2 separate regions of the Homo sapiens genome follow, and region 2 is linked to region 1. Evidence: fine-mapped expression QTL. A gene starts in region 1. The other region holds a variant in brackets. All regions are shown on one strand. Distances are between the middles of the regions. Region 1 holds the start of AUH (AU RNA binding methylglutaconyl-CoA hydratase). Region 2 overlaps AUH (AU RNA binding methylglutaconyl-CoA hydratase).

Region 1 (15,664 bases):
CAAGACTCCGTCTCAAAAAAAAAAAAAAAAAAAAAAAAAAGACAGACCTACTGGTCAGCTTATAAATGTAAATACATGTAAAAAAGAGGCCATGTGTGGCCTGTAATTCCAGCCCTTTGGGATGCCGAGGCAGGTGGATCACCTGAGGTCAGGAATTCAAGACCAGCCTGGCCAACATGTTGAAACCCCGTCTCTAGCAAAAATACAAAAATTTAGCCAGGCGTGGTGGCGGGCATCTGTAATCCCAGCTACACGGGAGGGTGAGGCAGGAGAATCACTTGAACCCAGGAGGCAGAGGCTGCAGTGAGCCAAGATCGTGGCACTGCACTCCAGCCTGGGCAACAAGCGTGAAAGTCCGTCTCAAAAAAAAAAACAAGAAAGGAAAACCTTTCGGAGAAATCTGAAAGAACAGTTCCATCATATACACTGAATTACTAAAAGAGAATGATATGCCCCAATTTTTCTATAATTAAGACACTGACTTTTGTTGACAAAATACAGTCACAAATCTTGAGTTAAAAGATTATCCTGATTGTACGAAAGTTTAAAAGCACATAAAGCAAAGTAAATAGATTAAATTAACTTGTTAAAAAGTACTCAAGGCTAACATGTTATTCTAATAAACAGCATGTGGTATATTATTTGAGGACATTTTGCATGTCCTCAAAAAGGCAATCTGTAACAGACATCCACAAACTGTGCTAAAGCATTAAAGCTTTTTTCAAAGTATATTCCTAATGCAGAAATCTAGAACAAATGGGCTGCAAAAGAATATGTAAAATAAAAAGAATTCCACCAGTAACTATAGTGCAATAATTATAAAACCTACTGCCAACAGAAAAACAATGCCGGGATGACCACTAACACTTATTTTTAAAATGTTAATCTGTCTTCACAACATTGATATCACTCCTCAAAAATTCATATAATTGGGCCTTCTTTAAAAACCCTAAAGCTACTCTGTATCTTCCCAATAAGCCATCCAATGACCTTTAGAGAACCTCTCAACCATCAGTCATGTGTTATACTCCTTTACCTCAAGATCATATTCACCTGGTGAATATGATCTAGACATAAGAATCCTAATTCTCTTGATATAAGTCTTTCACATTGTTTAAAAAAACAAAGAACTCAAAATATACATAAAACCCTTATAAGCACTCCTACTAAGCAGACAGTATTACTCACATTTGACAAATGTGAAAACAGAAATCTGTACTGCATAACACCATAACCCTAGCAGCTGGGAGTAATAAACCTACACTCTTTGGTTACTCAACTGGAATTAAAACTAATTCTTTTCGGTATCCTACATTTTAAGAAATGTATTAAGGAGGCAATAAAACCTTATCAAAAGCCAAAATACACTGCATATTTCTAAATATCACACTATTCTGCAATATTTTAAGGCAGAAGCCACAGAGATTGAAGCTTTAAAAAATTGAGAATCCTTAAGAATGAAACTAGGGGCCAGGCACAGTGGCTCACCCCTGTAATCCCAGCACTTTGGAAGGCCAAAGATGGTGGGTCACTTGAGGTCAGCAGTTCGAGACCAGCCTGGCCAACATGGTGAAATCCTGTCTCTACTCAAAATACAAAAATTAGCTAGGCGAGGTGGCAGGCGCCTGTAATCCCAGCTACTCGGGGGGCTGAGGCGGGAGAATCACTTGAACTGGGGAGACGAGGGTTGCAGTAAGCGAAGATCACGCCACTGCAGCCTGGGTGACAGAGCAAGACTCTATCTCAAAAAAAAAAAAAGAATGAAACTAAAGAATATTGGCCACAATTAAGACACAACAAACAACATTGTACTACATGTACTACAGGTACTACAAACAAGTATTTTAATGGCTCAAAGATTTTTTTTCAACTTCCAAAACAATCTAAATGTTGCAAAAGCTTCTTTCTAATGCTGACAGACTAAGCATGTTTTTTTCTTGTGAATCAGTAAAACACAGACAAAGAGGAGTTGTTGGTAATGGGGTTCAAACCAAAGAACATTCTAATGGAAAACAGATTACTATTGAGGAAAAATCAGACTACAGTTTAATTTCATAATACAACATATTTACATACCAGCACAGAATATCCCTGGGACTTCACTCCTGATTATTATGGTCCGTACTTTCTTATCAGATTTCAAAGCATCCACAGCTTTTGATAGCTAAACAGAAATAGGAAGCATAGGAGGAAAAAGAGAAAAAAAAAACAAAACATTTTTACATTGATGACAATAATATATCTTAATATTAGAAGCAAACAGTTTAATCTTTACACTCACCATTTTTATAAGATTTTTACTGAGTGAATTTTTGCCATAAGCTCTGTTTATTCCAAGCACCACAATTCCTAGTTAAAGGGGAAAAAAAGTACAAGCACTTGAGTGAGCAAGGCATTCAGAGAACAGACTCTACATCACACATCTAGCTAGCTTCGAACTTAACAAATCAAAGAAATTCATGACATCACGTTCCCTTCAATCGATCTCTTCTTAAGCACCAAGATAATTTGCAACATTTTGGTAAATTTTACATCACTAACTCAAACTAGAGGGAAGACTAGACTTATTAGTGAAAATTTTAAGTTAAAGGATACTATTTAAAATGTGGTTTCATCATCTTCAAGTAGATACCAAAGTAACCGCTAATAAACCTTGTCACATGCAGGTATTATAGCATCTGCTTTTTCTAGGACCAGTTGTTAATATCTCCATTTTTTTGTTGTTCATACTACACAGTTTTCAGTAATTCTATCCCAAGCTTCTCTCCTGATTTCTGTCTGATATACTTAACCTGAGGGCACTTCCATTTAGATGTCCAAGAAGTACTTCCAACTCAACCTATACAAAACAAAGTTCATTATCTCTCCCACAAACCCAGCTGTCACTCCTAACTGCCCCACTTTTTAATCAAAGACCATCACCTAAACCCAGCCTCCCATTCCTTCCAGTTACCAATTTTCTAAAAACAGTACTATGCATAGAATGCATCCCCTACTTAAAATCCTTTCATTATTTATTTCAAAATATCCAACTTCAAAGATCCTAATTTGATATTCAAAGTTCTACACAACCTCTACTAACCTTCTTGTTCTTGGAGTAGACAAATTTTCACAGTGTATCAGAAATACCTTCCACTGAGTCAGGGTGGGTATGTTTCTTATTTGCAACTGAGCTAAACTGAAGACAACAAAATGTACACATGCCTTCGCTGTGCAAGAAACTGTGCAGACCCATTCTTTAAAGTATAAAGATGAACTTCTGCTCACAAGAGTAAATTTGCAAGAATTCCAAATGCTCTCAGTACAGAGAAAAGCATAAAGGACTGCTATCTGACAGGATCTGTATTAAACAGCTGAATGACTTTGGGTAGGTCCCAATACTACTGACAACAGCTACCACCAGTAGGCCTCAGGCACTGCTCCAGGTGCTTTAAGCGAATTAACTCATGTAATCCCCACCACAACCCAAGAGGTGGGCACTACTTTTATCAATAGTTAACGGATAAAGAAATGGAGACTTGGAGAGGTGAAGTAACTTCCTTCAGCTATTAAGTGGTAATCTAACTCTATACTTGAATAAAACTGTGTTACACTGTTCAAGCTTCAGTTTCCTCAGGAAGAAAATCAAGCAGCTAAGACTAGATGTGTCCATTCATTCAAACATACTGAGTACGTACTATAGTGATCAGCAGCCATGGAACTAGAGTCTAGGAGGGAAATACAAACATTAATAATCATAGAAATCATTAATAATCATAAATATCATTAATAATCCATTCAAACTGCTTTACAAGCTGTAAGTGGTGCTACAGTAACTTGTAACCAGAATTGATAATGGTCTGGGGCAAAAGGAGATGGTTAGGGAAAGCTTACCCCAGACAGTGAAGGTTAGAAGGATAAGTAGGAGTCAAGGTGAGAGTGAAGGAGAGGGGCTGACTGCCAGGCAGAGGAAACAGGAAAAGCATAAACTAGTCATGGTCCCACTGAATGTCCTGTAACCTACGAGGGGGAGAAGAGAGTGACCAATGAAAGTAAAGAGGTCAGCACAAGCCAGAAATATCCTTACAGACCTTCTAAAAAGTCTGGTCTTCATCCTAATAACCATTGAAGGAGTTTACGTAGGTATAAACATATACACATGCACATATAAAACTGGCGGGGGAATAGTTTCTATACTTGGAGATCATACCAGAAGTAGACAGGGGTGGGAGCTTCAAGACACAATTCGAGTCCAATCAACAGATAACAGGTTTGGCTGAGATTGGTGGTGGTAAAAATAAAGGAAAGTGAAAGGATTCAAGAACTATTCAAAAATTTTAAATGAGTTAATGATGCCTAGACTGAGGACTGATTTAACTGGAAGAAAGTGTTAAGGAGTATTTACCAGGTTTCTGGCTTCACCAATTGGATGAAAGATGACATTTAATGAGACAAAATCATAAAACTACCAAGGTGAGGGTGGAGGGGAGTAAAGCTCATGAGTTTCTGTTTTTAATTAAAGTGAATCTGAAGTGCCTTTCAGACATCCAAGTTGATACAACGTCCAAGGGCTAAGAATGCAGGCTCTAAGGTGTGATTGCTGGGGATGAAATCCCAGTCTGCCGCTTACTAGCTATTCGGCAAGTTACTTAACCTCTGTGATCCTCAGTTTCTTACTCTATTAAGAATTCGGCAAGTTACTTAACCTCTCTGATCCTCAGTTTCTTACTCTATTAAGATACTAACAGTTCCACACTCCATGGGACTGTATTAGAATCGAATGATATGATACATGTAAAATTTACAACATGAGGACCCAATTAACCTCCCTTCTAGCATGAACACCTCTCATGCAGTAAGTATTAAAAGTTTCACCATAATTTCTGCTAGATATGATAATGCTGACATTATTACTGAAGGGTAAAGTGCCATCAAAATGTTTCTAACACAGTTAATTCCAGCAATTTTGGTCCCATATCTGAGACTTGATGTTTTGAGTACTTCCACTTCAAAAAGCTAGAAATTAGCTCTGCAATCTGAAATGAATTATCTAATATGTAACAACTGTACCATCAAATGTATCTGTAGGCTTTTGGTATTCTAAAATGGAATAAAACCTTAGCTTTATTCAGCAAAGTCTAAAAGTTTTTTTTTATAACTGTCTCACTTTAATTCACAATTCAATCACTTCTCAAGAACTCAATTATCATGCATCCTCCTCACATAACCTAGAAAGTTTACCAAACTCAGAAAAGCTTAGGCGTTCACATGCCAACCTTAATTTTCCTGACTTTTCACAAAACATACAAAAATCTTCAGTGAATCTGTAACAAGGTCACATCACAGCATGAATCCTGCTCTATAAAGCTCACACAACTGAAAGATGAATGTAACAACTTTGCTGAGACTTTAAAAACAAAACAAAATACGTTCTGCTTATACAAAATGAAAAAATACACTCAAAGTGAAAGTCCTCCTTCCCTAGAACCAGCTCATTCCCTTCCCCAGAAGAAGCCACAGTTATCACAGTTACATGTAATGTAACCTTCCAGAAAATGTTCAACGTATCTACATACAGAAATAGAGTTGTATATTACCATTTGGCTTGTTGTTGCTATTTTACATAAATGGATCATATGTTCTGTTGGAGCTATTCTACATAAATAGGTTCATACATTTTTTCTTTTTTTTTAAGAGACAAGGTCTTGTTGTGTCACCCAGACTGGAGTGCAGTGGCTCCATCATAGCTCACTGCAGCCTCAAAGTCCTGGGCAGTCTCCATCTCAAAAGAAAAAAAAAGAAAAGAAAAGGAAATTTGGTTATAGAGCTATGCCTCCTACAACAAATTACAAATATGGAGCCCAGATAACAGATGAGACCTGGTGTATTCTGCACTACTTACCCCCACCCACCTAAAGTGCTGCATGCTGTTTGAGGCTCCTGTGACTAGGAGAGTTATCCTATTCCTTAGAGGCTGCTGAGAGCACCAAATTTTGGACCCACCTCTAAGAGAAATAAAGGCACCCAGGAAACTCCTTCACCTGTAGTACCCTTGACCTCATGTTTTTCTTTGCACTGCTTATTGCTGGTTCAACAGTAAAGCAAAGCAAAGCCTAGGTAATGTTAGCCAAGCCTGAGTCGTCATTCTTGCCAATTCTCAAAGGAGGCGGGGTCAACTTTAAGAAACCATGATGTATGTCCTATCTCATCAGGAAATCAAGGCTAAAGAAAAAAAAAAAAAGAAACCATGATACCCAAAAAAATTTTCGTTTATTATCTTTTATTATCTGATATTCTCTCTTCTGTCCATTCAGATCCTAACTTAAAGTCTGTCCAGACATTCTGCACAAATATTCCTTTAATTGCATTCAAGTCATAACGACCAAAAAAATAGAATATGGTGCATATTAGTAGCTGTACTTGCAATCCCTTTATATCTAACATATTGTTGGTACACTTAACGGAAGTGAAGTCCCGGCATGACTAAGCTTACCCAAAAGATGATGGCATTCAGGCTCTAATCACTCCAGTGCTAGTCTATGCTTCCAGCTGAATTTCTTACTATTCTGCTTATGCCACACTTGCCTTATGTTACGTCCCAAATACACCACACATGTTCACATCTCCATGCCTTTGACCATGTTCTTGTCTCTGTCTGGAATAATAAGTAAGGAATAAAGTCATTCATCACACTCCTGAAGCACTGCTACGTGCTAGTGGCAATTTACATTAACAATCTCATCTCATCTTCATAACAAACCTATAAAGTTGGTATTGTTTTTCCTGTTTTACACGTGAGATAAGTCTGCCCAAGAACCCTCACAAATGGCAAAATCCACTGCCTATTAAAGAATGCCTTGGAACCCCTTTCAAATGGCGAAACCCTGCAGGTATTACAGCCCTTTCCTCTTACCATGCCTTGAAAGTTCACACAGCCTACTAATAACCAGGATCTGCTTCACTACACTAAAACCAATCACGACTTACACGCTTTTCACTTCTGCTTAACAGATTATAGGTGCTCAACAAATGCATGTCAAAATTAAAACACTGGTCCTCTGGCTTAACCCGGAGGTTAAGGGTGGAAACTGCTATTCCACCCTTCACGACCCTTTTAGCTTTTCCCTGCACTGCCAGTGAAAGGAACTGAGCTGTAACAGTATTCCCTAGGATTGTCAGCCTCCTTCAAAGCCTTCAAAGCTCTGTATTGTATTGCTAATGATGTCTCCTCCCGTAGAAGGTAGCTCAAGGGCAAGATCCATACCATCCACATTCTTATCGCCAGAGCTGAGGAAAATAAAAAGTGCTCAAAATTGTTTAAATGAAGTGGAACAGTCCCTCAAGACTAACTTTCTAAGAGAAAATGAACAAGAGGAAAAATTGTTCCAGCTGAGCAGCTTCAAATTTAAGATTCTCCGTAATAATAAAAGGCAGTTTCACCGCAGCTTTTACAACTCCACCACTAATAGCTGAGTTTACAGAAAGCCATTACACAGCAACAATAAAGCCTGGTAGCAAGGATTAAATCCCCAGGGTATATATTGACCTTGGCTTGTCTGGAGCGGAGGGCGTAAGCTGCACTTCTGTTTGCCGCGCTGAATGCGGTCACTTTACAGGTAAGCTGCTCGGGGGTACACGTTTAGGTTATTAAAAGCAAGAAATAGGTGCACAAGGAAGCGGCCACGCTGGGTGAGTAGGGAGGTGAGAAAGGGGAGGGACCCAGGTTCGGTGCGCCTGCCTGACCTCGACCCCGCGTCCTGCCGGCGGACGCTGCACCTTATGCCCGTCCTGAGAGCGAGCGGCCGCCCGCTGCCCCGCGCCTGCCCAGCGTTCGCACCTCACCTCGGTTCTCCTCCTCCAGGTGCCGCACCCGCAGCTCGTCCTCCGTCTTCATCTCAGAGCTGTAGCCCCTTTTCGGGGCGGGACCCCCGGCCGCAGGTACCCAGCCCTGGGCCCAGATCGCCGGGCCCGCTCGCCGGCCTGCCAACGAGCCGGGCAGCCTCAACCCCGGGCAGAGCCACGCACTGCAAGCGGCCACCAGGCGGGCGCCGCCAGCATGCAGGGATCCCAAGGCCCCAGGTGCCGCCGCCACCGCGGCCGCCATGTTGTCTGTTTACGGCGTGGACCTGCGACGGCCGCTCCGCCCCCGCCCGGCGCCGACCTGCCGCGCGCACGCGCACGGCGTCCGGACCCGCCGCCTCGCTCCGGCTTGGCCCCGCCCTCCGGAGCCGTGTTCCCGCCCCTCACTGCCCCGCCGAAGCCCGGTGACCCGAGGCCTTGCCCCATTCTCCAAGCGAGATTGGATGGTTTGTCCAATACAAAAGGAAAGAAAGTAGTTTTCCAAGGTTATGGAATAATTCAGGGAAGACTTTTCTATAAGAACCACCCGGAGGGAATTATCTCCCCGTACTCCCTGGACCATGCCCTGCGGTCCTGTGTTAAGTAAGCTGCAAAAGTGAACAAAAAAGTTTTGTCTCCTCAAGTTGGCTGAAAGTGTGGCAGCCCATCGTTGGTCACTGCCTTACTTATGGATCTCAGGTTGTTGGTTTAGCGTCCCTGATAAGCATAAATGATGTTTACTACGTGGCGTTCAGGAAAAGGATGAGAACAGCAAACAGGCAAAGGAGTTCTTTCTCCAGCCCACCCACTCGTACCGATGTCCCATGGCCCTTCCTGGACGGAAAGAGTCTTACAGGGGTTCAAACAAGCCATACGCTGAGATGGGATTTAGAGTATGTAGCTCTTCCAGAAACTCGGGATATCAATTTAGTGTGTAGGTACTCATCAAAGCACGTTGCAGTATAATTAATGCTACCTAGCTTTTATCAGATCTCTAATGGGAAAGCTTGCATTTAAGAATACTGGGCAGGGGGCGGTGGCTCACGCCTGTAATCCAAGCACTTTGGGAGGCCGAGGCAGGTGGATCACCTGAGGTCAGGAGTTTGAGACCAGCCGGGCCAACGTGGTGAAACCCTGTCTCTACTAAAAATACAAAATTAGCCAGGTGTGGCGGCACACGCCTGTAATCCCAGCTACTCGGGAGGCTGAGACAGGAGAATTGCTTGAACCCGGGAGGCGGAGGTTGCCCTGAGCTGAGACTGCACCATTGCACTCCAGTCCAGGCAACAAGAGTGAAACTCTGTCTCAAAAAAAAAAAAAAAAAAAAAAAAGAATACTGTTTGAAAAGTGTGCTGCTATGAGCATACGTCTAGTGCCACAGAAATTTCTTGTATTTTTTAGTCCTAAGCAAAACATCCTTCATTATGTCCTCAACTTTTATCCAATGTAGAAACAAAAAGTAGACTGAATTCCATTACTGCATCTGCTGTAAAATGATGTTGAAGGCACTTTTATTTTTATTTTTATTTTTTATTTTTTGACAGGTTCTGGCTCTGTCGGCCAGGCTGGAGTGCAGTGGTGTGATCGCCTCTCGCTGCAACCTCTGCATCTCAGGCTCAAATGATCCTCCCACCTCAGCCTCCTGAGTAGCTGGGATCACAGGCACACACCACCACACCTGGGTAATTTTTGTATTTTTAGTAGAGATGGGTGTTTCTATGTTGGCCAGGCTGGTCTTGAACACCTGACATCAAGTGATCCACCCAACTTGACCTCCCAGAATGCTGGGATTACAGGTGTGAGCCACCATGCACAGCCCACTTTTTATTCTATCTTTTGTAAAGTTCCATGCAGGAAAATTTTCCTGAAGTTTACTACAAGGAAAACTTTGCTTCCTTTGTATCTTTCCTCTTTTCTGATAATGATGTACATGTTGACTGCTGGGTGTTGTGATTTTTATTGTTATGGTTTCTTTCTAATTTGGTCTTGTGGTCACCAGAGGGAGGGTAAATCTGGAGGTGACAGGGAGTTCAGCCAGTGGAAGGGGGTCAAGGAAGGGGCACTTGTGGAGCTAAAGCCTCTGTTGGGGTCCAGCGTGTTACCCAAGCAGTTTCCCATGGAAGTTCTAATTGGTGAGTTTAGAACAAGCAGGCACAAGTTCCATGGAGTCACCCTGTCACTGTGAGGTGGTCACTGGAGCCCATCTACACAGTCCATGTGGGTTATGGAGGTCAACAGGTGAGTCAAGCAGGCTGCATTTACCTGTCCCATAGGGAGATGGTCACCAGGAAGCAGTTGCATTAAGCAGATATCTGGATGGATCACATTGAAGAACTGGGAGGAAGCAGAGAACTGGAAACTGTATCAAAGGTGATTGAGCCCTGCTTCTCATATGAGAAAGTTAAACATATTCAAAATGGATACCAAGGCAAAATAAAATTATGAGAATTACTGTACTAGAGATGGCAGCGGCTGCTCCAGACGGCCTACTGCTGCAGCAGGGAGGCATGGCCAGGGCTGCACGCTCTCTGGCGGGAGCCAGGGACAAGCGGGAGACCCACCCCTTCTGAGTTGGGGTGGGAACTCCCTGGTTGCCTCTGCAGCACAGCTGCAGACTGGGGCCTCCTGCTCCACAGAGCAGGCAGAAGCACCACCCAAGGTGTGGCTGCAGATCTGAGCCTCCCTGTGCTCTTAGGGGGCCAGGAGCAGGCAGGAGCCCTGCCCTCCCCGAGGGCAGCTGTAGCCACCCAAACCACGGCTGCAGCCCCAGGCATCCCTGCACTCTTGGGGGCCCAGGAAGGCCCTGCATGCCCTCACAGGCTCAGAAATGCCTGCTCCTGCTGCCTGGCTTCTCCCTGCTGTTGGCACCTGCTCCATTCTTGGAGCAAAGTTGAGGCTGAACCCAGGCACCATGAATGGCAGTGGGAGGCAGACAGACTCCTGGGCAGAAGGGGGTGGGTCCCCAGTGAGGCCCCAGCTTCTGGCCAAGGAGGGCCTGAAGGCTGGGGGTTGGGCTGCCAGCCCCATGAACCAGAGTGGGAACTTGTGGTGCCTTTTCCGAGCCTGCCCATGGCTGCCCATGGACCAATCAGCGGCAGGCACTTGCTCCCCTCTGAGGCCCATAAAATCCCCAACTCAGCCAGAGCTGAGCAGATGATGGGACAACCAGCTGCAGAGAGGAGCTACCCTCTCAGCTGAGAGCTTCAGAGACTTGCAGAGATGTCAGAACTACCAGCTTCAGAGAGGAGTGACCCTCTCCAGGGCCTCCTCTCTGCTAGGAGCTGGGCAGATGTTAGGACAACCAGCTGCAGAGAGGAGCTACCCTCTCCAGGGCCTCCTCTCTCCTAGGAGCTGGGCAGACTTCAGGACACCCTGCCTACAGAGAGGAGCTACCCACTGCGGGTCTCCTCCGAGCTGTTTTAATGCTCAATAAAGCTTCTCTTTGTCTTGTTCACCCTCCACTTGTCTGCATACCTCATTCTTCCTGGACCCAGGACAAGAACTCTGGCAAAGGTGCCACCAGCCACAGAGGTTTCTGGCCAGGAAATCGACACCTCAAAGGTTCCGTAACACTAGGAAACTCACAATTGTATTTACAGATCAACCATTGCAATTATTGCAATTATATAATTACTGTTTATTAATATTGGTCTCCAGTTGTTTTGATATCTTTATGTCGGTTCATCAATAGATGGTAAATTTAGAGAAAGCAGTTATACAGAGCTCCTGACAGTGCTATTTAAAATAATATAACTTCAGATAATACTGATAATTGACTAGGACAGCTGCAGAAAGATAATCATAGATTGTTTGGGTTATAGAAGAAAACAAAGGACCACCCATTGTTTCTAAAGGCATAGAGCCTGATGGAAAAAATGCAACATAGAGGACTATCCCCTTCCCTAACATTTGGGACTCTCGTCCTTATTTGCAATAGTCATGCACGTATCTCAGGTCTGTGACCAAAGTTGATTCTTAAAAATTAATGCAACTAATAAACATCACCATGACTATCACAACCTGTCAAGCATGACAACTAACAGCAAATTGCCAAATATCAGGAATTTAACAAATTCCAAACCAAATAGACATGGCTTTGGATCCCTGCTCTATAATTGCTCCACTTTGAGACATCAGTGAGTTATTTAAATACTTCATGCTTCCTCTTCTTCATCTGCAGTATAGCTAATATATCTATTTCACTTTATGAATTCTTTTTTTTTCTTTTTTCAGACAGAGTCTCACTCTGTCACCCAGGCTGGAGGGCAGTGGCGTGGTCTCACCTTCTGGGTTCAAGTGATTCTCCTGCCTCAGCCTCCCGAGTAGCTGGGACTATGGGCAGGCACCATCATGCCCAGCTAATTTTGTTTTTTCTTTTTGTAGAAACAAGGTTTTGTCACGTTGGCCAGGCTTATCTCGAACTCCTGACGTCAGGTGATCCATCTGCCTCAGCCTCCCAAAGTGCTGAGATTACAGTCATGAGCCACCATGCCCCACTGAATTATCTTCAATTCCTTCACCTATAAAATGAGAATAATTATGCCCATTTATTGGGTTGATAAGTATGTAAAACACTTGGCACCAAGAAAGAAATAGAGCAGCGTGGAAATATTAGCTACCATTTACCAACTTCCTTCTTAGTCTATTTAAGAAGGCATTTCGCTGTCTTATTTAATGTTCAGGAAACTTTCAAGTTGGTATTACTACCCCCATTTTTATAGATGAGGAAACTGAGATTAAGTTACTTACCAAAGACTGCATCTGGGAAGCCATGGAGCTGGAATTCAAATACTGATACATCTGACTCCAAAGCTCATGTTCTTTTTCTTTTTTAAAAATCTTTTAATTTTTTTTTTTTTTTACTAGAAACAAGGGTGTCACTATGTTACCCAAGCTGGTTTTGAACTTAGGCTCAAGCCGTCCTTCTGCCTCAGCCTCCCAAAGCGCTGGATTATATGTGTGAGCCAGTGGGCCCAGCCAAAGCCCATATTCTTAATCACTAGTTAGAACAGCCTTTCAATAAATGTTAAGGTACTCAATAAAATGTCATGACCTCTGGAATTTCTACTTTTCAATGAAAGATTGTCAAGTATGAAACAGGAATAATGAGTATCAGTTTGGGAAAAGGCGGGTAGGGCTTGTTGTTTGAAATGAGAAGAGTATAGCCAGGTGTGGTGGTGTGCATTGGGAGGTTGAAGCAGGAGGATTGCTTGAGCCCAGGAGTTCAAGGTCAATCTGGGCAACATAGCAAGACTCTGCCACTGAAAAAAATAATAATTAAAAAAAAAAGGAAGAAATGGCAAGAGTGAAAGAGTGGAAAAGCTGGAGTATTCAGAGTACTACACCCACTAATCTCCTGACCTGCTTCTACTTCTTCTACATCCAGCAGAACTGTGAGGCAAACAAACCTCCTTTCTTTAGAAACTACCCAGCCTCAGGTATTCTTTTATAGCAATGCAAAATGGACTAAGGCAAGGACCAAATATCTTTTTCTTAGTATATCACGATATCATAAGCCCCATGGTGGCCTTTCACTCCAGAAGGTCTTTTCCCATCTAGTCTGAGTACTTACCTCCAAAAGGAGGGATTGGATGTCAAATCCAGAAAATCCAATCTCTAGAGCCTTGAAGGGATCCAGTAAGCCTTACCCAAGGACACTACCCCCAGAGAAAAGGTATGTTTGAAGACACCCTCTCTCACTCTGCCCTGCAGAGACTCCTTGACCAGACACTGCAATCCACCCCCACCAAGGTATTGTAGGTCTCATTTTAGGTAGCAACCATGTGTGCCTATGAGCTCCATGACCTCTGGAGAAGAGTAGACATTATACAGACAAGTAAAGAGAGGCATAAATTACTGAAAGTTACATAGCTAATAAATAACAAAGCTGGAACTGGAACTCAAACACTCCACTCCAAAAACCTGAGTTCTTAATCATGACTTTCTTTTGTTTGCTTTTCCTAATTGATTGTAAGGGCTTCATCTTCTCCACCACTACTCTGACCCCAATCAGTAGGGAGTTTTATCAAGCCCTTCTATTATCATTTCATTTGGAAATTTCACCCACTGCGTTGGATCCTGCATGGTCACGATTTCCCAGATACTGCTTCTTCCCCCTGACAATTCCATAGTTGCTGATTGTGTATACGTGCATACATGCAAATATGCAAACACATGTGCCATGTCCTGAAAATACAAACCTTCGTCATCTCAGGATGAGAGGGATGGGGAGACTAGGGGATGAGATCAAAAAGGTACATGGCATCTTTTGGGGATGATAAGGATGTCCTAAGTTTATTGTATGATGGTTGCACAAACTCTGAGAATATACCAAAAACCATTTAATTGTATATGTTAAATCGGGGGATTGCTTGGCATGTGAATAATACTTCAATAAAGCTGCTGCAAAAGTCAGGAGACAGGATTTGGGATCCTTGAAGAGATGACTGATTGAGTGTCTGAGACAGAGAAAAACTAGGTGAGATCAGAATATCTCCTTGTGCCAGAAAACACTGAAGTGCTCCACAATTGACAGAAATGTGAAAGACCACAGCTCGGAAGGGTTTCTACTGGCCTTGCCTGGGACAATTAGAATGTTGAAGAGAACCATGCTAGTAATTGATAGAAACATTTAGCATTTTTTAAAGATATCAGTGAACAATTAAGTAAATGGATGGCAGATGGTAGAAGCCAGTTTCTCCCTGTTGGTATGGGAGACTACAGATAAGCAAGGGAAGGAGGCCAGGATGATTTGTTTGATAAGGGTTTAGCACTGGAAACATCAGTATGAACTCATGTTTAGCTTAATATAGATATAGATGGATACACATAGAAACATCTACAGATAAGTACATATGCACACATGAGTATACACACACTCCTGCTCTGTCAGCTAAGATGAACTAGAAGCAATAACACACCATCGACAATGAGCACACCTAGTGTCAGATCTTGGTTTCTAATACCATCCTCCAGTAAAAAAGAATTCCCCATTGATCCTTGGAGAAATGGGTGATTCTAGGACTGGGGCAGGAAATATACAAGATGAGCCTGAAGGATGTTGTGGTGCCAGAAAATAAGAAAGTGTTCAAAATAACCCCAAAATGATGGGCAGATGTCAAAGAGATGCAGGAACCAACTGAGAGAGTTCCCAGTGGCCACAGCTGGAACAAGATGAACAATAGAATAAAGTGGCATAGCATGATATCCGAAAGCATAAAATAAATATCCATGTATACATACTGATACAGATAAATGATTGAATAGTTAAATGAGAAGAGACCAAACTCCCAAGCAGAAGAATTTCCAATAATTCATGTAGATACTCTGCCCTACCTGAGGAAGGTGTCAAAGATAAAGCCAACAGTAGTTAAAGTAGTAAAGACAGATATTAATCAGTGATATACTATTGTAATAACATAATATGATATTCTTGTCTGCTTTCAGCAGGTCTAGGATAGAAATTGTTCATAAAATTTTAAGTCTAAGATCAGGAGGCCCACCCTATTGCTTTTAACCCTCTTAGTTGTAAGATAGGTGGTATCTCCCTCATACCCCTCCAAATAGGTAAAAGGAATACCTGCTCTATCAGGGTATAACTAGACATCTATGGTCTTAGCCCCCTCTTGTTTATAGTCTTTGGGTTCATTGTGCCTTGTCGCTTAAGCGCTTGTCTAGTGGATGAGAATGTTATTCTCTCCTCTAAATCAACCAACCTTCTATGGAGTAAAGGGTACTGAAGAGGATATGTCAGTCAGTTCGGGCTGCCATAACAAATACCACACACTGGGCAGTTTAAACAATAGACATTTATTTCCTCAAAGTTCTGGAAGCTGTAAGTTCGAGA
Region 2 (15,664 bases), 65 kb before region 1:
TTCTAGAGTGGCTACAATTCATGTATTTTACCCAAAGATATTTACTTTCTACATAATATTAAGAAGAAAAATTAAGCATCTATTTTTTCCACAATATTTTCCCCATATTTGAATTCTCCCCACTTATTTTCTATTTTTTTGGCTGTCAGCACCTGCTCATCTGGAAAAGAGGAAGAGCTAAGGCAGCTACAGTGGAGCAAGGCTCACTGGCAATGGCCAAGCCTTCCCTGCAGAGTGCACCCCTGGCTGCTCATACAAGCTTCTATAATAGGAGGCAAGTGACGCATTTTCTTTTAACCAAAAGAGATCTACCAAGAAGGGAGAAAAAAATTAAATACAGTCTACTGTGTCTATTATAGAAAGCTCTTTACAACATTTAACAGAAATGTTTATACCCAAAAGGAGGATATCTCAGAGATCACTTTAGGCATGGCAAAATTCACCAATTTAAAAACACAATTTTTGAAAAAAGCAGTCTTTTCATATCATCTACAACAAAGGAAAGAGGAGAAAGGAGATGGCAAAAATATCTATGGATAAAAAATCTTCTGTGGATGGAGCAGAAGAAGATTTTTCTACATAAAAATTTCAGAATAGCTCCTTTAGGTAATAAACACAAAAACGTATTTTTAAAATAAAATCTCTGCTGTTTCAAAAGAACAGGCATCACCTAGGGTACTTTAAGAACTGTAATATTAATTTAAAAGTAGACCAAAAATTCTGTGCATCTCTTATCTAAATGTGAATACTATTGAAATTTTTATTAATAACGAAAATGAATCTGATTTTCATTTACATTAAAAAATTCAAAGCTACATAACATTTTATGAGCTATGAACTTGAAAGCTTCATGGTATTAAAAGAGGAACTAAAATACATTCCTCAAACTCACTTAGGACAAAAGAGGTCAGAGGCAGTGGCTCATGCCTGTAATCCCAGCACTTTGGGAAGCCAAGGCAGGAGGATTGCTTGAGGCCAGAAGTTCAAGACCAGCTTGGGCAACATAGTGAGACCCTGCCTCTACAAAAAGAGAAGAAAATTAGCCGAGTGCAGTGCTGTGTGCCTATAGTCCCAGCTACTCCAGAGGCCGAGGTGGGAAGATCTCGAACCCAAGAGTTTGAGGCTGCAGTGAGCTATCATTACATCGCTGTCCTTTAGCCTGGGTGACCAAGCAAGACCCTGTCTCCAAACAAAAAAAAGAAAGAAAAGAAAAAGACAACCATCCTTTGTAAGTACATGGGAATATGTCAAAGCATTCTGACTTTTATGACAAATTTATTTAATAGAAACTAGAAAAATAATTCTATTTGTCAGAATATGTAGTCCAAATTCAATCAAACCTACAAAAAGTAGGTTCTAATTAATGCAGCCACTATTGCAGAGGACTCTAAAGAACTTAAGTATATTGGGAAAAAATTCTAGTTTCTAGACCTCATATGGTATGGCACAGTGAGTTCACAAGACAAGACAGAAGAGGTTGTTATAGCATAATCTATCTTTTCTCATCTAATCAAACCAAACACTGCTCTCTATCTTCTGGTAGTTGTAACACAAAACTTTTCATAATCAAGTCACAGTAAATATCCAAATTACCAAGTTCATCTTGCTCCCTCCCCAAATTTCTGCCACCTACTAACCCCCATCTGTCCCCAAAAATCATGTAAACATCACCAAAAAGTCGCTGTATTCATTGCTATAACAAATTGCCATAAACCTGGTACCTCTGAACAACTGAAATTTATTCTCTCTCAGTTTTGGAGGCCAGAAATCCAAAATCAAGGTGTTTGTAGTGTGGTTCCTTCGAGAGGCTCTGTGAGAAAATCTGTTCCATGCCTCTCACCCATGGCTTCCCGTGGCTGCCGACAACCCTTGGCATTCCTTGGCATGTAGATGTATTACTGCACTCTGTTTCTGTCTTCGCATCACCTTCTCTTCTTCTGTGCCTTCCTCTTTCTTATAAGGACCCCTTGTCTTTGGATTTAAGCCTCTCTCAGATAATTCAGGATGATCTCATCTTGAGATCCTTAATTACACGTGCAAGATGCTTTTCCTTCCAGGCTGACATCTCTTGGTGTCTGTTGGGGGGGTGGGGGTGGAGGCGGCATGCCATCCAACCCACTACAGCCACTATCTTTCTATCTTCTAGGATTAATCACATCCTCATTACCAACAAATGCTTACTTCTCAAAAGAATTTCAGAAATATGTCACATCACCCTTTTGCTAAATTTTGCTTTATTTCACATATTAGTTATCTGGGAATTCTTTTTAAATTGATCCACTGTCTTATAAATCCTTCTGGTGTTTTTTATTAGTCACAGTGAAAAAGGCAGGCATAATAGAGTAAGTATATATTAAATGTTTTGGCCTACAAGAATAACATTTTCATCAATTACCAAAGTAGAAAACATGGGGAGTCTTACACATTCATCTGGGCAGTCTTCAATTTCACTGTAACCTATGTTTTAAATTTCTACCTATCAGAATAAATACTCTTTTAATGATAAGGTTAACCACACAATTTTAACCAATTCATATGCAAGTATGTCTTCCATGTTCAACACTGAGTTTAATATTTACATTGTTACTGTTGTTTCATTCATACTCTAAGCATCATTTAGCATACATAAAAGGTACCATGAGCCAAGATTGTGCCATTGCACTCCAGTCTGGCGACAGAGTGAGACTCCGTGTCAAAAAAAAAAAAAAAAAAAAAAAAGTTCCAAGGAAGGTTACTATAACATGCATATCCTTAAATGAAGTCTACTTTTTGAAAGAATGACTTCACAAAATGGGAATGCCTCCAAATTCTCTGAATCAAAAGACCAAAAATTTCAGATTTATTGGGTGATGCAAGATTTCATTATCAATTTTGGAAAGATGTTTTCTTAAACGGCTCTTTCAAGAACAGAAGCTCATCTATTTTTTTCATAGGAATAGAAGAAACAACACCTCTTCAGCTCTAAGTTCAGGCTACCCACTAACCGCAACTTTTGTCCCACTGCAGAGAAACACAAGAAAGGTGGTACAAAGCCTGGGAACCCTCTTTTTTTTTTTTTTTTTTTTGAGACGGAGTCTCGCTCTGTCACCCAGGCTGCTGGAGTGCGGTGGTGTGATCTCGGCTCACTGCAATTTCCACCATCTGGGTTCAAGCAATTCTCCTGCCTCAGCCTCCCAGGTAGCTGTGATTACAAGCACGCACCACCATGACTGGCTAATTCTTCTATTTTTAGTAGAGACGGGGTTTCACCAGGTTGGCCAGGCTGGTCTCAAACTCCTGACCTCAAGTGATCCACCCGCCTCGGCCTCCCAAAGTGCTAGGATTACAGGCATAAGACACCGCACCCAGGCACCTCTCTTCTTCTTCCACTTGGGGTTTCACTGTCTGCATGAAGCTGTTGGTGAGGACACACACATTTAAATGCACGCATAAAAGCTTTAAAATATTTGTGTAATCCTTTAGGAAAATAGATCCAAACAGTGACAAAAATGTAATTAGCACAGTAACTTAAAACTTAAGAACTACCATCTTCACTGTCTACGTAAGCTAAAAATAGGGCATACAGGCATACCTCATTTTGTCGTGCTTCCCTTTATTGTACTTCACAGATACTACATTTTTACAAATTAATGGTAACCCTGCATCAAGCAAGTCTATTGGCACCATTTTTCCAACAGTATGTGCTTACTTCATGTCTCTGTGCCATATTTTGGTAATTTTCACAATATTTCAAACCTTTTCATTATTGTATCTCTTATGGTAACCTGTGATCATTAATCTTTGTTGTTACTACTGTAATTATTTTGGGGCACCATGAACCACGCCCACATAGGATGGCAAACTTAACCAATAAATGCATGTATTCTGACGGCTCAACCAACGGGCTGTTCCCCCATCTCTCTCCCTTTCCTTGGGTCTCTCTATTCCCTGAGACAAAACAGTATTGAAATTAGGCCAATGAATAACCTTCCAGTGACTTCTGCAGTGTTCAAGTAGAGCAAAGATCCACACGTCTCTCACTGGAAATCAAAAACTAGAAATGATTAAGCTTAGTGAGGAAGGCATGTCAAAAGCTGAGATCAGCCAAAAGCTAGGCCTCTTGCACCACTTAGGCTTAGTTGCCAATGCAAAGCAACGTTTCTTGAAGGTAATTAGAAGTGCTACTCCAGTGAACACAGGAATAAGAAGAAAGCAGAATAGCCTTATTGCTGATATGCAGAAAGTTTTAGTGGTCCGTAAAGAAGATCAAACTAGCCACAACATTCCCCTAAGCCAAAGCCTAATCCAGAGCAAAGCCCTAACTCTCTTTAACTATAACTCTTAACTCTCTTTAATTCTAGAGTTAAGTCTGAGACAAGTGAAGAAGCTGCAGAAGAAAAGTTGGAAGCTAGCAGAGGCTACTTCATGGTTAAGGAAAGAAGCCATCTACCGTAACACAGAAGTACAAGGTGAAGCAGCACGTGCTGATGTAGAAGCTGCAGCAAATTATCCAGAAGATCTAGCTAAGATCACTGATGAAGGTGCCTACACTGAATAACACATCTTCAGTGTAGACAAAACAGCCTACTATTAGAAGAAGATGTTATCCAGGACTTTCATAGCTACAGAAGAGAAGTCAATGCCTGGCTTCAAAGCTTCAAAGGACAGACTGACTCCCTTGTTAGGGACTAATGCAGCTGGTGGCTTTTAGTTAAAGCCACTGCTCACTTATCATTCCCAAACTTCTAGAGCCCTTAAGAACTATGCTAAGTTAACTCTGCTTATGCTTTATAAATGGAACAAATAAAACCTGGATGACAGTGCATCTGGTTTCCAGCATAGTTTACTGAATACTAAAGCCCACTGCTGAGACCTACTGCTCAAAAAAAAGAGTTCTTTCAAAATATTACTGTTCAGTGACAATGTCCTGGTTACCCAAGAGCTCTGACAGAGACAGACAAGGAGATGAATGTTGTTTTCATGCCTGATAACATAACAGCCATTCCACAGCCCATGGATCAGTCTACTTTCAAGTCTTATTATTTAAGACACACATTTCAGGCTGGGCGTGGTGGCTCACGCCTGTAATCCCAGCACTTTGGGAGCTTGAGGCAGGCAGATCATGAGGTCAAGAGATCAAGACCATCCTGGCCAACATGGTGAAACTCCGTCTCTACAAAAAATACAAAAATTAGCTGGGCACGGTGGTGTGCACCTGTAGTCCCAGCTACTCAGGAGGCTGAGGCAGGAGAATCCCTTGAACCGGGGAGGCAGGGGTTGCAGTGAGCCGAGATCACACCACTGCACTCCAACCTGGCAACAGAGCGAGACTCCGTCTCAAAAAAACAAAACAAAACAAAAACCACATTTCATAAGGCTATAGCTGCCATAGACAGTGATTCCTCTTATGGATCTGGGCAAATTAAATTGAAAACCTTCTGGAAAGGATCTGCCATTCTAGATCCCTTTAAGAACATTCATGATTCATGGGAAGAGGCCAGAATATCAATATTAACAGGAGTTTGGAAGATGATGATTCCAATCTTCATGGATGACTTGGAGGGATTCAAGACTTCAGTGGAGGAAGTCACTACAGATGTGGTGGAAAGAGCAAGAGAAATAGAATTAGAAGAGTAACCTGAAGACGTGACTGAATTTCTGAAGTCTCATTATAAAACTGGAATGGATGGGGAGTTGCTTCTTGTGGATTGATCTGGTTTGGCTGTGTCCCCACCCAAATCTCATCCTGAATTGTAGCTCCCATAATTCCCACATGTTGTGGGAGGGATATGGTGAGAGATCACTGAACCATGGAGGCGGGTTTCCCCCATACTATTCTCGTCGTGGTGAATAAGTCTCAGGAAATCTCATGCTTTTTTTAATAAGGGGTTTCCCTTTTCCCTTGGCTTTCATTCTCTCTGGACTGCCTCTACGTAAGACATGCCTTTGCTCTTCCTTTGCCTTCTGTCATGACTGTGAGGACTCCCCAGCCATGTAGAACTGTGAGTCCATTAAACCTCTTTCCTTTATAAATTACCCAGTCTCGCATATGTCTTTATTAGCTGCATGAGAACAGACTAATACATGGACAAATAAAGAAAACAGTTTCTTGAGATGGAATCTACTCCTGATAAAGATGCTGTGAACACTGCAGAAATGACAACAAAGGATTTAGAGTATTACATAAACTTAGTTGATAAAGCAGTGGCAGGGTTTGAGGATTGATTCCAATTTTGAAAGAATTATGAGTAAAATGCTATCAAACAGCAGCGCATGCTACAGAGAAATCTCTTGTGAAAGGAAGAGTCAACTGATGTGGCAAACTGCACTG[C/T]TGTCCTTGGAAATTGGCACAGCACCTCCACACTCCAGCAACCGCCACTCTAATCAGTCAGCAGCCTCAACATCAAGGCAAAACCCTCTACCAGCAAAAAGATTATGATTCTTTGAAGGCTCAGGTGACCATTAGAAAATTTAGCAATAAAGTATTTTTAAATTAAGATATGTACATTGTGTTTTTAGACATAATGGTACTGCATGCTTAACAGACTGCAGATAGTGTAAACATAACTTTTATATGCACTGGGAAACCAAAAAATTTGTGTGGCTTGCTCTATCGCAGTATTTGTTTCATTGCGGTGGGGAAAATCTGTTAGGTATGCCTGTAACTTGAATGGGGACTTTGCTAGGGATGCAAACAATATGCCATTGTCTCTTTACGCAAAATGTTGCCTTTCCAATTAACATGATTTTGCCTTATGCCCTGTTTCTAGGACCAAATCAAGGATTTGAGGAATGGGCGTGAACTACTCATACCTCCACCAGGAATAATCGCCAATTTTGTTTCAACCAGGCCCATTTTTGCAGAGGAAGCTAAAACGAAAGAAAGAAAATTAAGTATCATCCATATCATCACATTCAAATATGACAACTTGAAAAAGTTATGAGATATACTAAAATATTGTTTACTAATTAAATTGATATCACAAATTCTTAAAAAAAATCACTTAAAAGGCATTGTTATGGAAATAAGTAAGCACTCTAAATGACATGTATTAGGAGAGTCCCACAACATTTTCTGTTAAAAACTGCTTGGCAGTGAATTAATTTTTGATTCACAAGACCAGGACTGTAACTCCATTATTAGACCCAATATTGCCAAGACATATTTGGAGGCATAGATCTATTAATTATTCAGGATCAGCAGACTTGTCAGTATCTGACAAGCCCAAATTCTTCAGTTGCCTGAATATAGTCCCCCAGACCAAAGAGCTTAATAGGTCATATCAGATATGGCAACTTTTCAAGACCAAGTCTTTAGTTACCTTCTGACAAATAGTTTTACTATTCTGACAGGTGGACAGGGTTCCTCTTTTCATGTCTGTTTTCATGGCTACTTTAAAACATCTTAATAACTTCTTTATTTGCATATCCAAATATACTTAGACTACTTCCCATATTCTAATTTCCAAAACCTGTATTCTTTCAGAAATGGATTACATGTACCTTAGCTTTTCAATTTAAAATCCAATGATTTCATTACAAGAAAATAGGTTCCTAAAATGAAGTGAAAAGGAGGAAAAAGGACACATGGACTAGCAACCAGAAATCCCAAGAAACTGAATCATGTTGACGCTACATTGTTCTAAAAATTTAAAAAATCTTTTATAAAGATGAGGTCTCCTTATGCTGCCCAGGCTAGTCTTGAACTCCTGGCCTCAATCAATCCTTCTGCCTTGGCAGCTCTGCTTTTAACATGCAGCCACATCAGAAACGATAATGGAAAGCAAGAGAAGAACAGTGACAACTCTGTGCCGTCTGCTGTGCCCAGTTCTCAGTCTCAGAGCCCGAGGACACAGGCAGAGCTGAGTCTCTATGGATATAGTGTCCACAACGATGAATATGGGAGATCAGTCTACGTTGCTCTCATGAGGTAACAGGTGTGTGGGCTGTGGCCAAACAGTCTGGGTTCAAATCTCAGTTCAGTCACTTCTTTGGGGCTTCTCTCCCTTCTCCAGTTTCCTCCAGTGCCCCAAAGTACCTGCTCTGAGGGTTGTTATGCAGATGGAGTGAGTGAATACATGTCAAGTGCTAGAATAACACTGGGTGCCTGGACTGCACACAGTAAGCAGTGGGCACTAATTCTTTTCACTCTTTTTCTATTCACCTCATAAGATCCTCAGAAAACCATTCAGGAAGAAAGTGGACTTCAAGGAGATTCAGTTATCATTACTGTAGCAAATGGTGATTTAGTACTTAGATTAACATCCACAGATTAATTGCTTAATCTTCACAACAGCAACAGTCATTTCCCCCATTTCCTCTAAAGAGGAAGATATTGGCCTAAAAAAGGGAGGACCTCAGATTCTTTTCCTTTTTTTCTTTCCTTTTTAATTTTTTTTTTTTTAAACAGGGTCTCCCTCTGTCACCTGAGCTGGAGTGTAATGGCACGATCATGGCTCACTGCAGCCTCAAACTCCCAGGCTCAAGTGATCCTCCCACCTCAGCCTCCCAAAGTGCTGGGATTAGAGGTGCAAGCCACGCGCCTGGTCCAGGACCTAAGATTCAAACTCAGTTCTACCTGACCCAAATCCTGGCAAGAAACAACACAAGACTTTTTTCAGGTGGGAATTTCGAAAACACCATTAGGACCAACAAGTGACTTTTTGAAAATATTCTACTCAACAACAGGAAGCAGAATAAAATATTTAAAATTACCTGAAGAGTAAACACAACCTTCACTTTTTTAAATTATGTTTTTAACAGGATTAATTCTTACCTGCTACTCGTATATCACAGGCTAAAGCCAGTTCAAGACCACCACCTAAAGCGAGTCCATCTATTGCTGCAATTGTTGGTACTGGAAGATTAGCTGAAATGGAAAGAAAATTTTATGCTTCCTTAATAAGATTATTATCTCACTGTGTAATTCATTTTTAATTTTTTTCTGTGAATTTATGCTTTAAATGGGAGATCATATACAGACTTTTGTATCCCTTTTACCTTTAACAAAATATAAGCATTTCCATCATTATTCTTCAAAACATTATATAATTACTGTATAGTGTTCCATCACATGTATGTGCAATATCTTTAAATCTTCCCATATTATTGAATTACTTTCATAAACATTTTTTGTTGAATTAACAGAATCACAGTTCTACGATTTCTTAATCTTAGAGCCAGAAGTCTTTCACAAGATGTTTGGTTCATACAAAGTTCAAATTGAAATGACTTATACATAATTGTGAAATTTATGATCCTTTATGGGCTACTTCAGTGCTTGGAATGACAGAGTCTCATTCAAAGAAAGACATCTGCTCAAACAAGAAAGAAACTGTCCAAGTAGTTGCTGTGGCATTGGCCCGTGAGCTGTCATTTAGTGAGGAGCCCTAACATTATGAATGGGAGCTGGAAAACAATCAGGCTCTTCCACTTCAGAGGCAAGATGCCCTGAGAACCTGCTCACAAGCATGCCTGGAAAGGGGTCAGCCAGTCACAGAACTAAAAGCTCAACTTGCTTGAATCCAGAAATTGAGTATTATTTTAATACAACTTTTGTAAATTATGACATACAGATTTCATTTTCATAACCAGTTCAAAAAGTGACTGGTTTTATTAGTTATTCTGAAAAGCAGAACTCTATTAATTTTATTTCTGACTATGGGAATGTGAAGCAAGGCTGGCCAATGTTAATATATAACAGAAAGTGGATTTTAAAAAGGTAATATCGGCCGGGCGCTGTGGCTCACGCCTGTAATCCCAGCACTTTGGGAGGCCGAGGTGGGAGGATCACCTGAGGTCAGGAGTTCAAGACCAGCCTGGCCAACATGGTGAAACCTCATCTCTACAAAAATACAAAAATTAGCCAGGCATGATGGCGGGTGCCTGTAATCCAAGCTACTCAAAGAGGCTGAGGCAGGAGAATCGCGTAAACCCAGGAGGCAGAGATTGCAGTGAGCCAAGATCGTGCCATTGCACTCCAGCCTGGGTGACAGAGTGAGACTGTCTCAAAAAACAAACAAACAAACAAAAACAATAAAAAGGTACTATCCCCCAAAATCTCTCTCTTCCATTCTGATATGTAAAATCCCCCAGAGGCTCACTCCTTGACTCCTTTTAAAATATACAAATTTGCTGAAGTACACTGAGTTTTATTCATAAATAAAGGAATTCATCACTTATTGAAGATCAAGTCTGAAAAGGCCAGGAAGGAGCACATATACACAGCTGCCGCCTGAAGCACTCCCAGAAGAGCAGGCGTGGAAGGGGCTTTTGCACAGGCAGTATTTCACTATCTGTACCTGTCTGAACATTTAGGGGTTGGGGGTGGGGAGGGACTTGAAAGGACAGGACAAATTCAAAATGTGCTTTCCAGAACACTTAGTGAAAAAAATAACAGCTATGTCAGGGTTTGCAGTCTGGAAATGAGTTTAATGTGCAAACAATATCTAGTGAATTTTATCTGGAAAAAAGAAAAGAAAAATCAATAAAAATATAAAACAGCAAGTTAAACTGAGTCCTTCCCAAGGTCATCCTGAGCTACTACAAGTAGAATGTAATGACTTTGGTTACCGACTCTCAACTCCTCTTCCTTCCTAAAAACCTGTCTAGAGATCATTTATTTCTAGACCTCCTCAACCTACTATCTCTCCAACCTCAAGTCTCACCCGTCAGAAGCCTTCCTTAGGCCTTGCTAAGGCCCTCCAGCTCACCTCCTTTACAGACCAGCTTCTAAGAGGAGTAGAGTAAACCCATGCCACCATACCCATTCACCTCCAAACAAGCAAGACCATTCTTGTTCCAGTTACCAATGACATTATAAGATTGTCCTATAGCCAGTGGACAATATTCAGTACCTATTAAATGTACTGCCTCAAAAGATCAGAGACATCCATCCTGGACACTCCCTCCTTGTATTCCTCCCTTCACTGCCTGCTGGGTCCCTCATTTTTCCTGCCTTTCCATCTACCTCTGGTAATTTCTCAGCCTTCTTCCCCTCTCAATAAAAGCTCTTCCCAGGAGATCTCATTCTCATCCACAACTTTTACCACCTATACTACCACCAATGATTTCCAGATCTCTACCTCAAACCCAAACAGCCCCCTGCCTGTTGGACATACCCACTTAAATACTTCATGTGTCCAAACCATTTCTTCTCAATCCTTCTTCTAGGCTGTATTTCAGTTAGTAGCACCTCCATTCATCAAGTTACTCAAGACACTCAGAAGTCATCCCAGATGTCCTCCTTGCCAATGCCCTTTTCTACCACCCAAGTTCTGGGTCCCATCATTTCTCACCAGCAGGAAGTACCTAATTAATCTCCTTCACCTGCAATCTGCCACCCTTCTATGCATCTTCTACCTTTCCTGTAGGGTAATCTTTCTAAAATGTAAACACAGTCATGCTATTCCCCTATTTAAAACTGTTCAATGATTTATTCTACCTTCAGGATAGAAATGGTGTAAACATTTAGCATGGCACAGGAAGGCACCTGGAACTAAGTTCTGCACACCTGCCTAATCTCTTCCAAAACCTCAGATATTCTGTTCCAGCCCCAAACTACTTAAAACAGCTCCAAAAGTCTCCATTCAAGACTCAATATCTGTATACAAGGTGCAGCTCTGCCTAGAATGCCTAGCTAGCCCCTACTTGTCTGTCGAGGCTCAAATGTCCCTTCCTCTATGCTTACATGGCACTCTGTGCATAACCTTTTCTATCAGAACATTCATTACCATACAGCCCATATGAAACAAAAATTAACATCACATCAATGCTACTCAATAACGTTCTTACTAATCTGGGACAAACCTCACGGTTTTTCACTGCCTCTTCCTCCTTTATTATATTAATCCTGGTATTTTGCCTACTTTTCTTTTTTTTATTAACTTCTTTTGTTTAATAAAGAAATAAACATATGCAGTCCTATGGAGCTAAAGAAAAGAAAAATTGCCAAGAGTTCTAAGATGGAGAGAGCAGAAGCAGAGAAAGAGTGGGTGCTCCCTCCCTGCTACGTAAGTGCTGAAGTCACTCAGCAAGTAGCTGCTGGAGGCCGTGATATTATGAAATACATATTTGGTCTTCATCCCTGTTTCCAGACACACAGCTCTTAAAACCCTTGGAATCTCTGGAGTGATAAATGCATCTTTCTTATTTCTCCAATAAGTTTATACTTTTTGGAATTAATAAAAACTATTTTTAAGTCTAATAGGAATTTGAGCCAGGTACAGTGACTCATGCCTGTAATCCCAGCATTCTGGGAGGCCAAGGACGAACGATTGCCTGTGCCCAGGAATTCAAGACCAGCCTGGGAAACATGGTGAGACCTCGTCTTGATTTTTTAAGAAAGAATTTGAGAAATTATGTTTCTAAAGAGGATGAAAATTGTGTGCCCTTGAGAAGCTTAACAATTCCAGGGCTTGTTTCCTTTTGTGCAGGCCCACACCAGGGTCACTGCAAAAAGAGCCAGCCTAGGTGCCAAGAGACATACCAGAGGTGAGGACCAGGGCCTGCAGATGGAAGACAGGAGCTCCAAGAGCAAGTCTCAGGCACCATATGCCTTACAATTTGTAAGAAATACGTAACACAAAATGATGAGAAATTTGGGTTCCACATACAAAAAGAACAAGAAAAATGGGATACTAATTCTCATATTATTAAATAGGTTAAGCACTGGAACTTTAAATTATTAATTAACATAAATTAGCCTTGTAGAAAGCTGTCTATAAAATGTTTCTAACTAAAGAATTAAGTAAAACAGCTTAATTCGTATTCAATGGGTAATTAAATATTAGTCATTTTACAATATTATAAATTCTAAGGCTATACATCATCCTAATTATTCCCTAAAAGATGTCTGTCGTAGTAAATTTTATCCAGGAAAGTATGCATCATCTCAAAGCACATGCCAGTCTGATATATGTGGTTTCTTTACATCTAGTATTTCTTCTACTTGGGAGCACTTAATAATCAAAGAGGGGGCCGGGTGCAGTGTGGCTCATGCCTGTAATCCCAGCACTTTGGGAGTCCAAGGCAGGTGGATCATTTAAGGTCAGGAGTTGGCGACCAGCCTGGCCAACATGGTGAAACCCCATCTCTACTAAAAATACAAAAATTGGCTCACGCCTGTAATCCCAGCACTTTGGGAGGCTGAGGCAGACAGATCACCTGAGGCCAGGAGTTTGAGACCAGCCTGACCAACATAGAGAAACCCCATCTCTACTAAAAATACAAAATTAGCTGGGCGTGGTGGTACATGACTGTAATCCCAGCTACTCAAGAGGCTGAGGCAGGAGAATCGCTTGAACCCAGGAAGTGGAAGTTGCAGTGAGCTGAGATCGCGCCATTGCACTCCAGCCTGGGCAACAAGAGTGAAACTCCATCTCAAAAAAACAAACGAACAAACAAACAAAAAAATTAGCCAGACATGGTGGTGCGTGCCTGTAATCCCAGCTACTGGGAAGGTGAGGCAGGGGAATTGCTTGAACCCTGGAGGCAGAGGTTGCAGTGAGCTGAGATCGTGCCACTGCATTCCAGCCTGGGCAACAAAGTGAGACTCTGTCTCAAAAAAAAGGAAAAAAAATGTTAATAATCATAGCAGGAACTCAATAAAATACACCTTTAGAAAGGTAGATTATGAATTTCAAAGATCTAAAGGAATAGCAAAATGACAGTTGTATATAAGCACAAATAAATGAAACAGGAACTGCGAATCCAACGAGCAATGGCTATTCCCAACAGCAAGAGGAAGAAATTATGACTCAGTATGTTATGCAACCAATAGGATCAGATACTATTTTCAGTTTCGTACCAGGAAATGAGCCAGGTATGACAAAGAAGATAATAATCCTTTGAAATGCTCCTAAAAATATAATTAAAGCAAACAATTAAACAGTTTGCTATTTTAAGAGGGAAAAAAGCAACTGTAAGGCAGGCCCCTGGTTCACTTCAGTAGTCTGTAGGACCTGCAGCCTACGATAATTAGACTCAAGGGACTATGAAAGTGGGGAAAATTAAAGTATCTACTTTCGATTCTCAGATAAATACAACACATAATGTAGGTTATTTGATGCTTCTAGAAAAATATGAACAATTTGATTATTAAAGGAAAATGTTAGTGTCAGACGCATGATTTTTTTTTTTGAAACGGAGTCTCTTGCTCTGTCGCCCAGGCTAGAGTGCAGTGGCGCAATCTCGGCTCACTGCAAGCTCCTCCTCCCGGGTTCACACCATTCTCCTGCCTCAGTCTCCCGAGTAGCTGGGACTACTGGTGCCCGCCACTACGCCCAGCTAATTTTTTGTGTTTTTAGTAGAGACAGGGTTTCACCGTGTTAGCCAGGATGGTCTCAATCTGACCTCGTGATCCACCCGCCTCGGCCTCCCAAAGTGCTGGGATTACAGGCGTAAGCCACTGCGCCCAGCCCCACAGGATTTTTAAATTTGGTTTTGCTTGAAGAATAGTGTTCCTACAGAAAGCAGTGAAATCAAGCATTTCAAGGGAAAGGCCCTATGTAGCATTATGCTGGAAGTCTGAATACTAAAATCTTTCAAGAAGAATAGAAATAAAATCTAAGTTAACTGAAAATTACAATAAATACCTAATTATCTTTCATTTTGGCTAAAACTTTACCTTCATCCTAATGTATATTCTCCCATTCCCATCACTGAGGTTTAAAAAAAATCACAATAACAAAACAAGCCCTGAGTGAGGCCTGCAGGCTGGCTGGGCTGTTGCTCCCTGGAGGCCCACACCAGGGTCATTGCTGCAAACATAATACCACAGGTGAGAGATGGGAGTTCAAAGTGAGAAGTCTCAGGCACCACAGACCTTAAAAGGAACACATATCCAAAAGCCAAAAGTAACAGTATTTAAATATGACACTTCGATTCTAGCACTAGGTTAAAATCTAAATGAAATGGAAAAATTCTACAAGTTGTTGTGAAGAAAAACTAACAGATGAAGAGCAGCAACATTCCTTACAGAAAGGGTCATTATACCAAGAACAAATTGCTGGAAGCTAGCATTCCCTCTCACATGCTTTTTTATACAAGCCTGTCATAGTAATTTCAGGCTGTATGGATTCACACAGAAAAGAGGACTAAATTTACTTTTTTACTAGGAAAAAAAGAGAAAAACTGCCTAGAAACAGCATAAAATAAGTAATCAATCCTCGATTTAGCTAAAACCAAAGGCATGTGGGCAACATGGAATAGGGTCCAACTCCTCCCTAATACTGCGAGTGATGCAGAGTAAGACCATGAGTGGCAACAGCATGAGGACAGCCTCACTGCAGTGCTGCAGATTTTATACTCAATGATGAAGGCAGAAAGTACCTTCCTTAACTCTTAACAGCACCTTGTACCTAAAGCTTATAGGAAATATATAACACAAAATGACAAGAAATTTGGGTTCCACATACAAAAAGAACAAGAAAAATGGGATACTAATATTCTCAAATCATTAAATAGGTTAAGCACTGGTACTTTAAATTATTAATTAACAAATTAGCATTGTAGAAAGCCGTCTACAAAATGTTTCTAACTAAAGAATTAAGTAAAACAGCTTAATGAAGTAAAAAAGCCAAAAAAACAAAGTACACTGGTTTCTTGAGCTTTCATAAGCAAGTACTGGTGGAGAGATATAATTTAAAACTTGTGCACCAAGTAACAGAGGTGTGAGTAAATCTAA

What was found.
Region 2: its variant is fine-mapped to the expression of AUH in whole blood (TOPMed, PIP 0.99).

Annotation. Positions count from the first base shown.
Region 1 is chr9:91,353,807-91,369,470 of GRCh38, forward strand. AUH (AU RNA binding methylglutaconyl-CoA hydratase) reads right to left here and starts at 8,112. Exons shown (of 10, transcript NM_001698.3): 1 at 7,822-8,112; 2 at 2,282-2,349; 3 at 2,077-2,164. The coding sequence starts at 8,083. RefSeq lists silencers at 7,843-8,282, 11,027-11,227.
Region 2 is chr9:91,289,229-91,304,892 of GRCh38, forward strand. It overlaps AUH (AU RNA binding methylglutaconyl-CoA hydratase), which reads right to left. Exons shown (of 10, transcript NM_001698.3): 5 at 8,756-8,848; 6 at 6,793-6,849. Among named protein-coding and RNA genes, the nearest start is that of AUH, 65 kb to the right of the region's middle. The variant C/T (reference allele first, on the strand shown) is at 6,311.